Linked DNA regions of Homo sapiens: region 2 is linked to region 1. Evidence: fine-mapped expression QTL. Tissue or cell type: lung. Region 1 holds a variant in brackets; the other region holds the start of a gene. All regions are shown on one strand. Distances are between the middles of the regions.

Region 1 (8,215 bases):
GGGTGTGAGTCTGAAACATCTTGTTTTGCCAGAAGACAAAGTGCTCCAAGTATGATGGAAATGTCAAAAGAACTCATAAGTCAGTTTGAACAAGAGCACTGGTTAACTCAAAGACAACTGGAGCATCAAAGTAAATAATAAGAGTAATAGATTATGACCCATTGACTAGAAAATGAAATCCTGAGTTCATACAGATGAAAATAAATTAATAATTTGAAGGCATGATGAGAAACAGGATATTTACATAGTTTCAGAATATAGCTCCACAAAATATGTATTAATTATAAAGCAGAAAATATAGCCTTGCCATGTAAAATCCTGGAAGACAACACCTTCATCCATGATCATCAGTGTGGACAAACCAACAACACATACCACCCGAAGATGGATGAGAAAAAAACAGTGCAACTTCTGTGACACTTCTGCCAAAGATGCATAATCTTAACCACATCATGTAAGCAGCATAAAAGTCCAAACTGAGAAATACCCTACTTCCTACTCAAAGGCATCAAGATCATGACATACAAGGGAGGGGGACACCGAGGGATTCTTCGAGACTGAAAAAGGCTGAAGAGACCAACTGCAATGCTTACCTCTGACCCTTTGATATAAAAGATATCATAGATACAAGTGGCAAAGTTGTATGGGGTCTGAGGACTATAAGGTAGTCATCTATCCATATTAATTCCTGATTTTGACAGCTGTGTTTTGCCTTGTATTTTCCTTATTAGAACACTAAAGTATTCGGTGTTCATGGGTAATGGACTGGCTACTGATACTCAAGTAGTTCTGAAAAAAAATTAATTTTGTGCTTCAATTCCAACTCTTTTGTAAAGTTGCAATTGTTAGAAAAGTAAGAAAAGAAATACTGTTTGATACCTGTCAAAGTTTTCTAACTTCTCTTAACTTTGGATTCTCTTTTTGTATAGGGTAAAGTAAGACACAAATAGGATAATACATAGGAAACAATTTGCAAACTGCAAAGCATTATTGAACATAAGCTTTTGGTTTAAATAATAATAATATACTGCATTAAGAAAGCCATTCACCCATTATTTTTCTATCTATCCAACAAACAATATGTAAACACATAATTGGCATCAGATATTGTGCTGAAATGTAATTTCAAGCAAAACATACAAGAGTGTGAAGTACAGTAAGGAAGAGAAAATAAGTAAGTCAGCTCTCCTGGCCAAGTATGATAAGGGCTTTGATACAGTAAACTGCAGATTATGAGGGGAGGACTAAGGCAGATCACATAAATTAGAACGTGGTGCCAGGAGAAGAGCTTATGAAATAGTGATGCTTAACCTGAGTTTTGTAGGACAAAATATAATTTGGAGAAGGAGATACCATTTTAGATAATGCCAGCAGAAGATATGATGCCTCAGAGTGATGAAAAACGGTATCCTTGGGGGATCCCTTCGTAGTTCAGCATGGCTGTACAATGCCTATCACAGAGTGTAGATGCCTATGGTTCAAGCAGGAGGAGAGTTTACATGAGACAGCTGTGTAGAAATTTGGCATGAAGGGTACCATGTCCTGGGCTGAAACGCAGGTGATACATTAAAAAGAATGTGTATGAACTCATTTCTTTTAGCAGGACAATGGCCTTGCAGTGGTATGCAAGATAACTCTGGTGAGTTTCATGAGGCTGGAGGTGGAAACACCAGTAGGTGCAATGGAGCAACCCCTGCTGGCTTGGGATATGGTCCCGTTTGCCGAGACAGGGATTTCAAAAGGAGGATAAGATTAGATAATGAAGAGCTCAGTCCTGGGAATCCTGATGTTGAATTTTCTGTGGAACTCTTGAAATGAAGATTTGAAGTGTTAAACCACTTTATGGAACATGCTGGATCCCAAAGGCTGGAAGCAGAAAGCCGCTCTACTCTCTCACCCCTCCCCGTTAATTCACCCAGCAGAACCATTCTCCCGGGCTACCAGGAAAAATTTCAGGAAGGCTTTCTAGCTTTTCCAGTTTCTTTTGGTCACAAGTGCAGCCTCATTTCAGCTTTTAAAGAGCTCTCCCTAGTATACAATCAGAATCCCAAGTTCTGGTCCAATGTAAACTGCTCCCTGCCCCAGTTCTGTCCTGCTTCAGGAAGTCTGTAGAGGAGGAAGGCGGGATGGCCCCCTTCTTTCTTCACAGTTTTCTCTTTCCTGGTCTTCTGATTTCCACTTTTGACTGCCCCAGGATGAGGCCCAGATGGGGAACAGCTTGAGGGGCATGGCACCATCTTATGCAGTCAGGAGTTGTGACCTTGCTCAGCAAGCACTAGGGATGTTTCCGCAGCTCACCCTCTCTTTCTTTGGCTGCCCTTCACTGGCTGTGCTACCTTTAGCTGGGATCCTCCCACTGCAGTTAGTTTGGCACAAGCTTCTATTACTGATTGCTTCCGACTCACCTTTTAGCCTCTGGGCAGTCCATCCTTCTGTGGGGGTCTCTTTGTTCCACCTATCGTGAGTGGAATCCCTTTTAAGCAAACTTCAAGCCAGCCTCCATCAGAAGGGTCATACTTGGTTCCCCCAAAACTCAAACATTTCCTCTCACTGTGAAGTGTAGCTGGTCCCCACATAGCCACTTTGCTTTGCTTTTCAAGCATTCAGGTGGCAGCTCTGGTCTTAGCTGCTTGCCTTTAGACTTTTAACTGTGGGTCAAATATCGGTCTCCATGTCTCTCAGTCTAGGGACATGTGCCAAGCCCTCTGAAGACACTCTTAGAGCCCCTTCTCATTTGCTTGCTGGGAGGAAACCCCCCCTCCCCCTTTCACACGAGTAAAGGCAGAAACACCATAACAGTCTCACAATTTTATTGCTTTCTTGTACCTTCCAGTTCAATTTCTTATCTACAAAGTGGGTGATGGGCTGGCGGAACAATTTTTCATCTCTAGCATTGCTATTAGGATATGCATGTTTTTACCACCATTGTTCTTACATTATGCTTGGAGTTTAGAGCCCCTGCCAAAACCCAGAAACCACCTGCTGCAAATACAGTGACCTGCTGCAAATACACTGGGGTAACACACAAAGTTGGGGGTTAAGAATTTAAAAGAAAAATCTTTGATTCTGAGAAATCACTATGACCTATCATTACCAGCTAAAGAGTTGTCTTTTGTCCAGGAGGCCTAGAAAAGCTGTTTAAGCTCTTTTCCTTACACTGTCTTCATCTCTGGTTAGCTACTATCAGGCAACAACTGGTTGTTAACCAGATTAAGGTGACATCTAACCAAATTGCCTATACAGTTAGCAAGAGCACACCAGAAAGATATAGGAAGAGCATTACCCAGATACACTCACTCACACATGTTTTGCATAGTAGGGATCTACACTATTTTATTTAGCTTCACTTTATCTAAAAACTAAAGACTTTTTGATCAATTTCACCAATCATGCAAGAACTAAATAAAGGCTGTGTCTGTCTCTGCTGGTACATAAAGCATAAAGAAGCCTTGGATCCCCTGCAGCAGTTGCCAGCTTCCCGCCTCTCTCCTGTGCATGGGCAGATGTGTCATGTTGGTGACACTCACACATTGACTCAGCAAACTGTGAACTCAGCTCCCTCGGTGAGGATTCTGTGACTTGCTTTTCATACCATGGAAAAAGAGGATAAGGCAATTTTTCCAATTTTTTATTTTGGTTTTATTTTGAAATCGTTTTATACTTTTAGGAAAATTAGAAAACAGTGTAAAGAACCTCCAAATCATCTTTAGCCGGATCCACCATTTTTTTAAACATTTGCCACAATTTGTTTTTGCTTCTTCAGAACTCCTTGAGGGTAGGTTGGATATATCATTCTCCTTGATCCTTTAATACATCAATGTGTATTTCATAAGAGTGAGACATTCCCATTATTTTATGTGACCACAGTACAGTTATCAAAATCAGAAGGTTTACCCTTGGTATGATACTTTAACATCCGCATTCCAAATGTGTCAGATATCTCAACAATGTTCTTTGCAGAACCTTTTTATTTTGTTTGGTTTGCCCTTCAGTCAAGAGTGCAGTCCTAAATTTGTCCAGTGGGAGCCCCTTCAGGCTGCCTGCTGAGTCCTTTTGACATGCCCCAGTTTTCTGTTTGTTTGTTTTGAGTACTTTCTTGCTTTGTGGTTACAGTATTCTAAATACCCTGGCTCTTTAAACTTCTTTGGGAGTACTTATCCTTAAGCATGCTTACTGTCCTTTTGACTTTTCTTTGAGAGTCTCAAAATAGCCTATG[G/A]ATGTTCCCTGATTAACATTCCACACATCTGGATTGCCAATACCATAAACAAGGTGACAACACAGACCACCGTCGTCAAGTTATTGCAATGTACAACTTAGGTGAACATGCATAGTGTTTCATCATTTAATTGAGAGAATGAACAAATACATCAAAGAAAGCAAAACTATCATCAGAAATATATTGATTCAATAGTTAGCCCATAATATCACATGAACCAGCAAAAGTTCACAATTAGAGTTTTGTGTAATACCTAAGATTATTTATTCTCTTTAAAATCTTGCCACGATTTACTGTGTTAAAGATAAAATAATATAAAAATCAGACTACTAGTTATCAGTTAGTGAACACACTAGTCTGGAAAACATCATGTAATTGGAATCAAAGAGGAACAGGATGATCAGTCAATCCACAAGGCAGAAAAATACATTTCTTAACTGAAAATATCAATTAAATTCCTGATTGAATGTGGCACCTAGAATGTAGATTAGATATCATAATAGCACTTACATTAGAAGACAACTTTTCTTAGGTTAATGTGACTACTAATATGGAGGCCTAATCTTGCTAGGTCATGTTAGAACCCTTATTCTCTGTCCCTGCTGTTCTTACTGTGAACAGGAGTACTGTGTGGTTCAAGGGGAAGGAACCACTGATTGTTTATCTTGAAGGCCCGTTGCAGTAGGTTTGTACCTGGTGTACACTCACTGTATAACTGAGGAATTAATGAATATTTTTGCTACCGCAAAGCCCTGAGGGGTGAAAAGGTGCTATGGTCTGCATGTTTGTGTCCCCCCACCAAATTCCTATGTTGAAATCCTAACTCCCAAGATGATGGTATTAGGAGTATGAGGACTTTGGGAGGTGATTGGGTCATGAGGGTGGATCTCTCATGGCTGAGATTAGTGCTCTTATAAGAAAGACCCCCCAGCTAGGCATGGTGGCTCACACCTGTAATCCTAGTACTTTGGGAGGCTGAGGCTGGTGGATCACCTGAGATCAGGAATTCAAGACCAGCCTGGTCAACAAAGTGAAACCCCATCTCTACTAAAAATACAAAAATTAGCTGGGCGTGGTGGCACGTGCCTGTAATCCCAGATACTCAGGACACTGAGGCAGGAGAATCACTTGAACCTGGGAGGCAGAGGTTGCAGTGAGCCAAGATCACGCCACTGTACTCCAACCTAGGCAAGAGCAAGACTCTCTCTCAAAAATAATAATAATAATAATAATAGAGATCCCAAAGAACTCCCTTGCTCCTTACACTATGTGAGGGAATGCCTAGAAAGTGCCCCCTATGAACCAGAAAGTGGGCCCTCCTCACCAGAAACTAAACCTCCTGGCACCATGATCTTGGACTTCCCAGCTTCCAGAACTGTGATAAATAAATTCCTTTAGATTACTAGCTACCCAGTCTATGGTATTTTGTTATATTAGCCTGAATGGACAAAGAAAAAGGTAGGTAACTTTTGAGGAAATGTGGGGCTTGGTATTTAATGTGACTGTTTGTTTCAGCTCTTCATTATTTCACCGTTAGTTATGTCTCTGGAATGAGAGCTTGGCTCTTGACAGGCAGTGACATATGACACATCACACAGCAAGGAGGAAATCTAAAGGGAGACCGCACTTCAAGGTCTCTGGAGTGATGGCCCCCGATAACTAGCAATCAAGCGTCAGGCATCAAGTGTGAGTTCCTGGTATCAAAATGCATGGAATGCAGACAGAATTCAGAGGGCAATATACAGCTTCTAAAACATTTATCAGGAAATAAACTCATCCTGAACTCAGAAGCAAGAAAAATGTCAACAGATTAAACATAAAGAAACAAACCAAGAAAGAAAATACTAAAGAGAAGACAAAAATGAAATACAATAGAAATAAAGTAAATTTAATTACCAAACTGGAAAAAAAAGTTTCTTTTAGAAGACTAATGATATAGGAAAAAATATTCTACATACTGATTTTTAAATTTTATGCAAATAAGCAGGAAACAGATTTTATAGGGTAAAATTATCAAAATGACTCAAAAATTTAAAGATTCAAAATATAGTCTAAAATTTCTGTACAATGATACCCCCAATGAATTTGAAAACCTAAATTACATGGTTAAATTTTTCAAAAACATTATAAAATATAAAACAGCATAATGAGAAATAATGTGGCATGGTCAATAATAATTTATAATTTTATAATGCTATTCGAAATATTTTATTTTTATTTTTATTTTATTTGTGTGTGTGTGTGTGTGTGTGTGTGTGTGTGTGTGTGTGTGTGAGAGAGAGAGAGATTTTTATTTATTTATTTATTTATTTTAGATGGAGTTTCGCTTTTGTTGCCCAGGCTGGAGTGCAATGGCACCGTCTCGGCTCATGCAATCTCTGCCCCCTGGGTTCAAGTGATTCTCCTGCCTCAGCCTCCCGAGTACCTGGGATTACAGCCACCCACCACCACGCCCAGCTAATTTTTGTATTTTTAGTAGAGACAGGGTTTCATTATTTTGGCCAGGCTGGTCTCGAACTCCTGACCTCTGGTCATCCCCCAGCCTGGGCCTTCCAAAGTGCTGGGACTACAGGCGTGAGCCACTGTGCCCCGCCAATCTTTTCCTTTTAAAAGCCTGCACACATCAACATGCATGCATCTCTCTCTCTCTCTCACATACACGCTCACGTGTGTGCATGACAGTTACAGGCATATGTGTTTTTACAAATGAATTCTGCCAAAGTTTTAAGAAATTCCTATATTATACAAGTGGCTACAGAATATGGCAAAGAAGATAAAATGGTCCAGAGAATAGAAAATGAGGGAAAAGACTTAGAATGCCAACATCAAAAATAAACAAGGGTGGTAAAAAGTAAAGGAAATCCTAGTTGATGTTGATATATTTGTATAGGTGAAACAATTTTACATAAAATATTAGCTACCAAAAATATATTTGATACCCAAAAGCAAATGTATACTCTAGCAAAAATGATATTATAATCAAATAGGGTGTTTGCTGGAAATGAAAGATGGTTTCACATTGTACGTATATCAATAATGAATTGAAACAGAAAAAAATTACCATCTTGATATTGTCAAAAAGGAATTTGATAATCTTCACTTCATGATTAAAGTGGGAAACAAAGTGTTTTTAGGGTGTCAAATATAGAACTCCCTCTAAACTTGTTATAGGATATATAAACATTTCAAAACATAAAGCAAACATCACATTGAATGAAAACACTGGATAAATATTAAATCCTCCCCCTAAGCCTGAAGGAAAGTAAACACTCCTCTTACAGGTGAATAATGTGCAACACATTATAAGAAAATGAAGGAAGAGACTGACGCCCTTAAAGGAAAGAGATTAAACTCCCGTCATATATGCAGATGGTATCATGTAAATATTTACCTTGAAAACCCAGAAGCATTAATGAACAAACCTCTGGAACTATTATCAAACTTGAGCAAGATTGCCAGAGGCATGAACAACATTCGAAACAAGCTGTGGTTCACTAAAGCAGCCATAATCAATTAGAAAATAAAATAGGAACTCAGAGGACATTTGGAGTAGCTTCAGAAACTTGAAAATGTCTAGGAATGAATCTACCGAACCCTGAAGAAATCCTTTATGAAGATAACCCTAAAATTAGACTAAAGGACAAAAAATAAAACCTGAACAGATGAAGGGGTTTTCCACTTCGTAGGAGGAAGTGTGGTAAAGATGTGAATTCTTCCGTAATTAAGGCCTCAGTGCAATGCAAATCCTAACAAATTTTTCAAAGGCAATGGACAAACTGTTTCTAAAATTTTACTTCCAGCAATATGGAGGCCTGGATATTCTAAAATTCAATCCCACTGTCTAACTGGAAATGTGGGATACATTGAAGTAAATCTTTAAATACATACCTACGGCTCCTAAGAAAGTGGACAAAATTGCCAGAGGTGAAAAAGAAAAAAAAAGTAACGAAGTTAGGATATCAAGTTTGTCCCTGATTCCAAAGCTACAGACATCCTTTG
Region 2 (8,177 bases), 200 kb before region 1:
CCCTCGATCTGGATGGACACCATCTGATCAGCTGCCAGTGCAGCTAGGATAAAAGCAGGCAGAGGAACATGGAAGAACCAGGCTGGCTGAGTCTTCCAGCCTACATCTTTCTCTCATGCTGGATGCTTCCTGCCCTTGAACATCAGACTCCAAGTTCTTCCGCTTTTGGACTCTTGGACCTTTGACCACAGACTAAAGGCTGCACTGTCAGCTTTCCTACTTTTGATATTTTGGGACTCTGACTGGCTTCCTTGCTCCTTAGCTTGCAGATGGCCTATTGTGGGACCTCACCTTGTGATTGTGTGAGTTAATTCTCCTTAATAAACTCCCCTTTATATATACATCTATCTTATTAGTTCTGCCCCTCAAGAAAGCCCTGACTAATACAACATATAAAGTAACAGATTTTCTGATACAATTCGTTCTTAGGTGTTGTAAATGAATTCTCAGCTCTGGAGAATATTCATTTTAAATAACTTTAACCTTCCTCCTGCTGCAAACAATGCTGCCCCAAACCCGTATGCTTAGAGAAGAGCTGAACCAGGAGAGAAATAGGTCAGGTGTAGTTATTGCAATGCTTCACCCCCAGAGGCACGTGAAGGGAACTCCACAGGTAGACCTCAAGCCTCCGCTTCAGTTCATTAAAACAAAAGTAGTTTCAAGTCTCACATGGCCTTAAAGTTCTGTGAGCCCATGACTCCCTTGAGTTCCATTTCTCATTTCTGCTTGCGCCTCAGCTGGGGCCTGGTCATGTTCATGTGTTACCTCTCAACAGGCATGGGGCTCTGAGACTGGCTCTCACTGCAGATCTGTCTAAAGCTACTTCTCAGCTACCAAGATACATGAAATGGCCACACTTTTTGCTGTGGTGTTCCTACACTTTCCTGCTATATCCTGCTTCCACAGTAAATTTTTACACTCTAGTTTTTAACCCTTCTCTAAAATAAAGTAAAAATGTTTTACAAAGTAACAGATATTATCATAAACTGGAGATAACAACTGTTAGATTAAGTTTCGACCTTGAAGCGTATAATTTTTTCACCTTAGATGATGAGTATTTTCCCAGGTGACTAACAGTTCCTTGCGAGCATTAGCTATTGGTCACCCAGCATCCCACCTGAAGGCTTCCTGTGATTCACTAGGAGCACATGGGATGCTAATGTTGCACATTTCAGAAGGTCCTGCTCCTGCCCTGGAATTCATCCACTTCCTGCATTGCTGTCTGGCTTGAAAGTGAACGTGCTATGGTGATAAATCTGGCTCAGAATGAAAGACAGATATGTGGTAGAAATGCAGGACAGGCGAAGAAGGAATGGAGTGTGACGAAGGCCGATGAACCTCGCCAGCAGATCAGCCCAATATGGGAGACAACAATTTGGGAAAATCTTACGCATCAGGAACAACCATTAAACCATGAATTATGATCCTTATCAATAAACCCTTAGGATACCATGAGGGCATTCACTCTTTTTTTTTTTTTTTTTTTTTGAGTTGGGGTTTTGCTCTTGTCACCCAGGCTGGAGTGCAATGGCGCGATCTCAGCTCACCGCAAGCTCCGCCTCCCGGGTTCAAGCAATTCTCCTGCCTCAACCTCCCAAGTAGCTGGGATTACAGGCTCCCACCACCACACCCAGCAAAATTTTGTATTTTTAGTAGAGACAGGGTTTCACTATGTTGGCCAGACTGGTCTTAAACTCCTGACCTCAGGTGATCCGCCTGCTTTGGCCTCCCAATGTTCTGGGATTACAAGCGTGAGCCATCACGCCCGGCCTTCTTCTATATTTTGTTCATCCTTCCAAGATATAGCTCAAGATGCATTTTTTTCATAAAACACCCTTCACTAGTTCAGCACAGAATGCAGTATAATTTCTGAACTCCTTAACACATCGCACCATTTCTCCAGTAAAGTTAGCATTTCATAATATTCATGCTTCCTTTCCATTTTATAGACTGTCACACTCAAAGCTTAGAAAGCAGTCAGATCTTTAGTAAGTAGTTGCTAATTACTTTCAGAAATGCATCAGGAATGTTTAAATTCATTAATTTTAGATTTCATCTCTTATACTAGCATGCTAAAAGAAATATCTCACAGGCTCCAATTGACATCACCAATTTTCTGAAATGTCTACAATTTTCCGAAATTCTACAATCAAATAATTCAACTAAAACAGAACAAAAGGCAGGAAAGGGCAGACTCATATTGTGTTTGGTGACCAACTGCTCCCTGAATCTCTCACGTCCATGTCACTGTCCCTTTGTGCTTCCACCCATGCTCCATGGCTGCCCTCCACCAGGTGTGTTCAATGTGTCTAATGAGCATCCAGGTTCCTTGTAGGAAAGATGCAGAGTTTTTCCTCTGCAGAGGCACAGCAAGGAAAATAATGACATTCTGCTAGTGCAGTAAAACACGAGAGGCAATACAAAAACCAGTCAGAGTATTGCCCTGTGTCTATTTCTCCAAGAAAATAACCCCAAGAGTTAACAGATTAAAGCAGAAGACTATTCTCAAAATTCTTAAATACGCTGCATGCCTCTAATTCTTATTAGTTAAAGAGCTAATCTGCAAACTTACGAGATGACCAGTGAATCCTTTTGGGAATTGAAATTGTTCTGCAACATGAAAGCATGACATTCTTGGCAATGCTTAAGAGTAAGGCATTTTTATTTCCATTAATCATAGTTTTAATTCCTGTATACATTCTCTACCAAAAATAAGAGAAAGGTAAATATTTTCACCTTCTCAATCATCATTATTTTTTTAGTCTCCTTTAGTGCAAAGCTCAAGATTCATTCAACACATGTGTTCCCTTAATATGCTGCTTCAATTTAACATTGTGATGTCCTTTGGCAGCAAAACCTTAAGCTTAAAAGAAAACCATTTTCTGCAAATGTCATCTGTCACTTTAAGATCATGATATATATGTACAGAAGTTTTCAGAAGTGCTGCAGGGGACAAAAATGTATATCCAGCAAGCCATTTTTGGATAAATATGTCTTCCTCTTCATTATTACCATCCAGAATTGGTTTAGATGGAAGTATTCTCTAGCTCAGAAAATTCTGCCAAAATTTCAGACGCTAAAGAAACCCTTGATAAGCCCAAAAGAGAACCTGGTGACAAACTAAATTTCACCATATGAACATCAGTGGAGAGCATTTGGTACAGAGTCCCTGGAGTCCCTAAGCACCGCAAGGTGAATGATACAAGGACAAAAGTTTACAGTCAAGGATAACCCTAAAGATCACACTTACAAAAAGCATTGAATAGAGGCTTAAGCAGTAAAACTTGAGACTAAAATACTAGCTAAATGACCTCAGCCATATATTAATAAACTTAGTTTTTATGTACTTTATTAACATGTGCCAATGAGCAAAAATATGCTTTTGTAATTTCTTTCCATGTGTTTCTGGTGTTTTTTTTTTTTTCTGGTTGCTGTGTCTATGAATCATTTTTTTTAAAAAGCTGAAGTTTTAAAGATCTCTGTGCTATTAGCATTTGGATCACACTGGAATTATTTCACAATCTAAAATTAAAAGGAAATATATCCAGCCTGTAAAATATTCTTCTAAGTCACCAGTCTATGTCACTCATCTGAATGTGGTATACCAGGAGAACTGCCTTAATTTTGGCATCTGCACAAAATAATACTTCAACAAGACAAATAACCACATGAGCAAGATATCAAGCTTACTTACAGCACTTGATAAAATGATAGTGAGACATCTTTCCATCTCAGACAGGAATCTTGCTACGGGTTCCAGCATTCTCTTCTGTCACAACTGTCGTTCCCAGGAAATGCATTACTTAAAGCCCTTACTCAGGTAACAGTTTACCTCAGGATGCACTATTGCATGGAGGCTCTGTTCCATGATCCTGCAAAAAGCTTCAAACTCATTCTCATTCGGCAGCTGGAGTTAAGATAAGCCTCTCCCCGGTGGGTCTTGAGGCACCACTGGTGCACGTGCTATTGTAGCACCCTTGATTGACACAGCCCCGAGTACCACAATCCCGGGAATAGTCAGCTCTAATTGGTGTTCACATGCAGCCACATTCTGCTGCACGGAGGTGTGCTGCAGTGCGGCTCTCCCGGTCCTGCCTGTTAATGGCTTTTCAATAGCTTTCAAATGGCAGCAAACTAAGCTGATGAGTGGGCTGGAGAGAAGCCACGGATAGAAGGATCCTAAATCTTCTTCGTGCACACTGTCCATCAGCCACATATGACCAGATTCTTAGCTGGTAGTAAAGCGGATTATTTTTAGTTGCCACCAGTTGCTGTGTGTGAATAGGAAATTGATAGCAGGAGCTTAAAATAGCCACCTCTTAGAATCAGAGATCTTTGATCTGTCCTTAGTAATGAAAAACTTGCATTATATTTCAAAACACATCTTTCTGCTTTTCTGAGCAGAATGTAAAACTTAAATTATCCACAAAAAGCTTTTGGTTTGCATAGCTTTAAAATTTAGGATTCTCCTACCTCTGCAGACTGCAATGAATTTAACTGTACAACCCAACTGGATGAAGTAAATCTGACTGAATTGGAATCAGAAAGAAATATATGGTCTGCTAGGGTTTATTGTTATAAAAGTGAATATCATACTCATAATGAAATAGCCATGGTAGCAAACCAAAAGGTTATATTTTAAGTTGTTTACAAATTCAAAGTGATACATTTTTTTTGCAAATTGATACATTTTTATGATGATCTTCTCCAAAGACAAGTTGACATAGTCTAGAATTTATGTTTCAGGTTTGAGGTTATAGGAAAGGTAAACATGAACAATATGTTAAGTGCACCCATCCTTCTGTGGCAGTAACATAATTTTGTATTCCTTACTGAACAAAACTCAAAGAGCAGTGCTTTTATTAAACTAGAAGATTATGAAATTCAAATCTATACAACAAGGGGTCATGACTATTACATTTTCACTGAATAATATTCTAACACATTTTAGTAGCGTGATGTAAAATAATAAGTTGAAGATTTCGCACAGAACAGCCTGATGTCAAATCCAGCTTCTACCACTTACCAGAGTATCAATGTAAACACATTATTTAACCTGCTAAAGCCTCAGTTTCCTCATCTATGCATGTGAAATATAATTCCTAATCTTTATTCTGAAGGTTAGAAATAATGCACATAAAATTTCTGGTTTCTGTTGTTGGTGTTCATTGAAAAGTTGTCATTAACATTAACAAGGAAAAAAACTTATGTATGTACCAAATGATGATTATGGACGCTTTAACTTGGCTTTTCCAAAAATTAGAATGAGGATTTGCAGCCTTCATCAGGAATGCTGATTCCTCATTTATTCGTTGATTCCACAATTAATTATTGAGAGTCACTGTCACAAAAGTCACCATTTTGGGTGCTTTTCAGGAATAAAATATGTCTAAAACAGAGCCTTTATATACCAGGAATCTATAATGTATTTTTAAAGGGTTTCTTGGATGTTTTGTAATGTTTCAATAAAACTGTAAGACACAACTATATCTGTTTCCAACACGGGAAGTAAAGCTCTCTCCTCTTTAAATCAATACAAATCTTTACATGTGCATAAAATAACTGTGAATTTATGTGAATGTTATCTAATGTATCTTCGGGTAAGGTTGTATCCATGTAGATGTCCCTACCCCCTTCTCTTAATACAATGCCGGATAAATAGTATGTTGCCTATATACCTTCCTTAAATGTCTGAATGTCTTAATTTTCTGCAAATTGCATGCCTCTGCATGTATACAAACTCAGCAAACATCTTAAGACAATTGAGTTTAATGATACCATTCACTCTTTAAACTGAAAAAAAGCATAACACTCAGAGGGGCATGTTGTGCACTTGACAAAGAAAATATGTTATTAAAAATATAATTGATTTGAGCCCTACTTTTTTCAATAACTTAAGGCATTTCTTATAAGAACTTTAACCAAGGTACCCCGTGAGAATTAACATCTCATCTCCAGGGGCTCATTATCAAATGTGTTTATTTTTCATCGACTCATGTATTCCATAAACATTTGGCAACTCTTTGTGCTATAAGAGAAACTTGACTCCCTGACCTCAAAGTGCTTATCGTCAGATGAAATAGAGACAATCAAGATAGCACAGTGTTGTGTGCTAGAAACTGTAAGACTACAAATGTAGACCTCTAAAACAACAAGAGCCAACATCTAATCCACTTTGAGGAGTTGAAGGAGGATACACTGAGAAATGTATTCACAGATTTCTTAAACTACTTAGAATGTGCTTTCTATGTATAAACTGTATCTACATATAATTTCCCCAGATTAAGAAGCCCTTTTATCTTTTTGTCTTTGAAACCACATACTCATGCTCTAAACATTGGTAGAACTATGTTTAAACCTATTTACATATTTCATCACTACAAAACAAAAATTAATTTCTAATGCAGGCATTAATACTGAGGAAAATAATTTTGGTTCCATTAACTTTACTTCCTTCATAAAATTTTTTAAAAATGGTAACTTGAAGTTGATTAAAATTTCCTCCTCTATATCCATCCCTGAGAAACTCAACTCACTGTTGGGTGGTCAGAACAATAATTTCAGGACTCCTTCAATCATATATATATATAATATATAATATATATATTATATACAATATATATTTTTATATATATTATATATAGCTATATATAATATATATAATATACATATATACATAAAATATACATATATACATGTATAATATACATATATATATATACACACACATATATATTTTTCTTTTCTTTTATTTTCTCTTTTGAGATGGAGTTTCTCTCTGTCACCCAGGCTGCAGTGCAATGGCGCGATCTTGGCTCACTGCAACCCTCTGCCTCCCGGTTTCAAGCAATTCTCCTGTTTCAGCCTCCCAAGTAGCTGGAATTACAGGCACCCACTACCATGCCCAGCTAATTTTTGTAGTTTTAGTAGACATGAGATTTCACCATGTTAGTCAGGCTGGTCAGGCTTGACCTCAGGTGAGCCACCTGCCTTGGCTTCCCAAAGTGCTGGGATTACAGGCATGAGCCACCATGCCCGGCTAAATCTTATATTTTAAATATGGTATCAGAGTTGATGACAGTAGCAAGAAATGACCAAGGCTAAATTAAATATATGGTTAGCAATTTATCTATTTTGCAGAATATGGTCATTAAGTACAAAATTAAATCCATGCGTTCGAAAGAGGGTATTGTTTTGCATTTCCAGAAAATTTTCAAACGCATAAAGCACAATTATTTTATTATTTTTCAGTATTATTACAATGAACTATTGTTCTTTCCAAATACGAATGCATAATATTTCAAACTCATTTTTGAATAATCAAGAAACCCCTTTTTCTCTTTTATACACCATACAGCTGCTCATTATTCACACTATTTCTGATATGAACACATGATTTTTTTTCTCTTAAATGTTAGCATTATTATACACCAGATTTTTTCAAATAAGGCTAAATTATTTCCCAGCCAAAAACAAAAAAAGAAACTGCAATGATTCTAATGAGAGATAAGCATTCAAAAGTTAGAAATTGCTTAGTAAATATCTTTTAAAATGGGATACATGAGACACAGCTCCAAAAAGGCCCCAGGTGAGATACTACTTAATGTTTTCATTTAAAACCTATTTGGACAATGTAAAACATGTAGTTTCATAATGCCAGTCTGCTGACAGATAATTCCTAATCTAATAGTGCCTGCATTGACATGCTTTATTAAATGAAGAAATTAAAACTAAAGTTTGCAAACATCACCAATTTGGGAAAGGTACGTATTAACAGTAGGTCATGACAAAAATTCTAAATGAAGATATAAATCACACACAACAGTTTTTTGTTATGCAAATTTAAGCTCTGTGATGGGGCATCATTGCCTCTGCCCTGTGAATAGGTTGGGGCTTATAAATATTAGCCTTTGATGAAGTAAATTACACACATTTAGAGACCTTGAGCCACAGGTGTCTCACACACAATGGCTGACAGCTAAATTTATAATTTCCTCTATCACAAATATTGACTGCTTCTGGGTGAATGGAGTCAAGACCTCTCCTGGGAACATAACTCCGGTCTAATAACTTAGGGTCCTTTGAGGCTGAAGCCTACAGAGGAGAAAATATCTGAGTTGTCAAAAAATAAGGCATAAATACACTCAGCTCTTGCTATAGAATCAGCCTCTGGTCAA

What was found. PIP is the estimated chance that this variant, and not a neighbour inherited with it, causes the effect.
Region 2: MYO16 starts here. The variant in region 1 is fine-mapped to the expression of MYO16 in lung (TOPMed, PIP above 0.99).

What each region holds. Positions count from the first base shown.
Region 1 is chr13:108,422,872-108,431,086 of GRCh38, reverse strand. No RefSeq gene overlaps it. Among named protein-coding and RNA genes, the nearest start is that of TNFSF13B, 160 kb to the right of the region's middle. The variant G/A (reference allele first, on the strand shown) is at 4,217.
Region 2 is chr13:108,625,390-108,633,566 of GRCh38, reverse strand. It overlaps MYO16 (myosin XVI), which reads right to left and starts at 3,956. Exons shown (of 35, transcript NM_001198950.3): 1 at 3,695-3,956. The coding sequence starts at 3,722.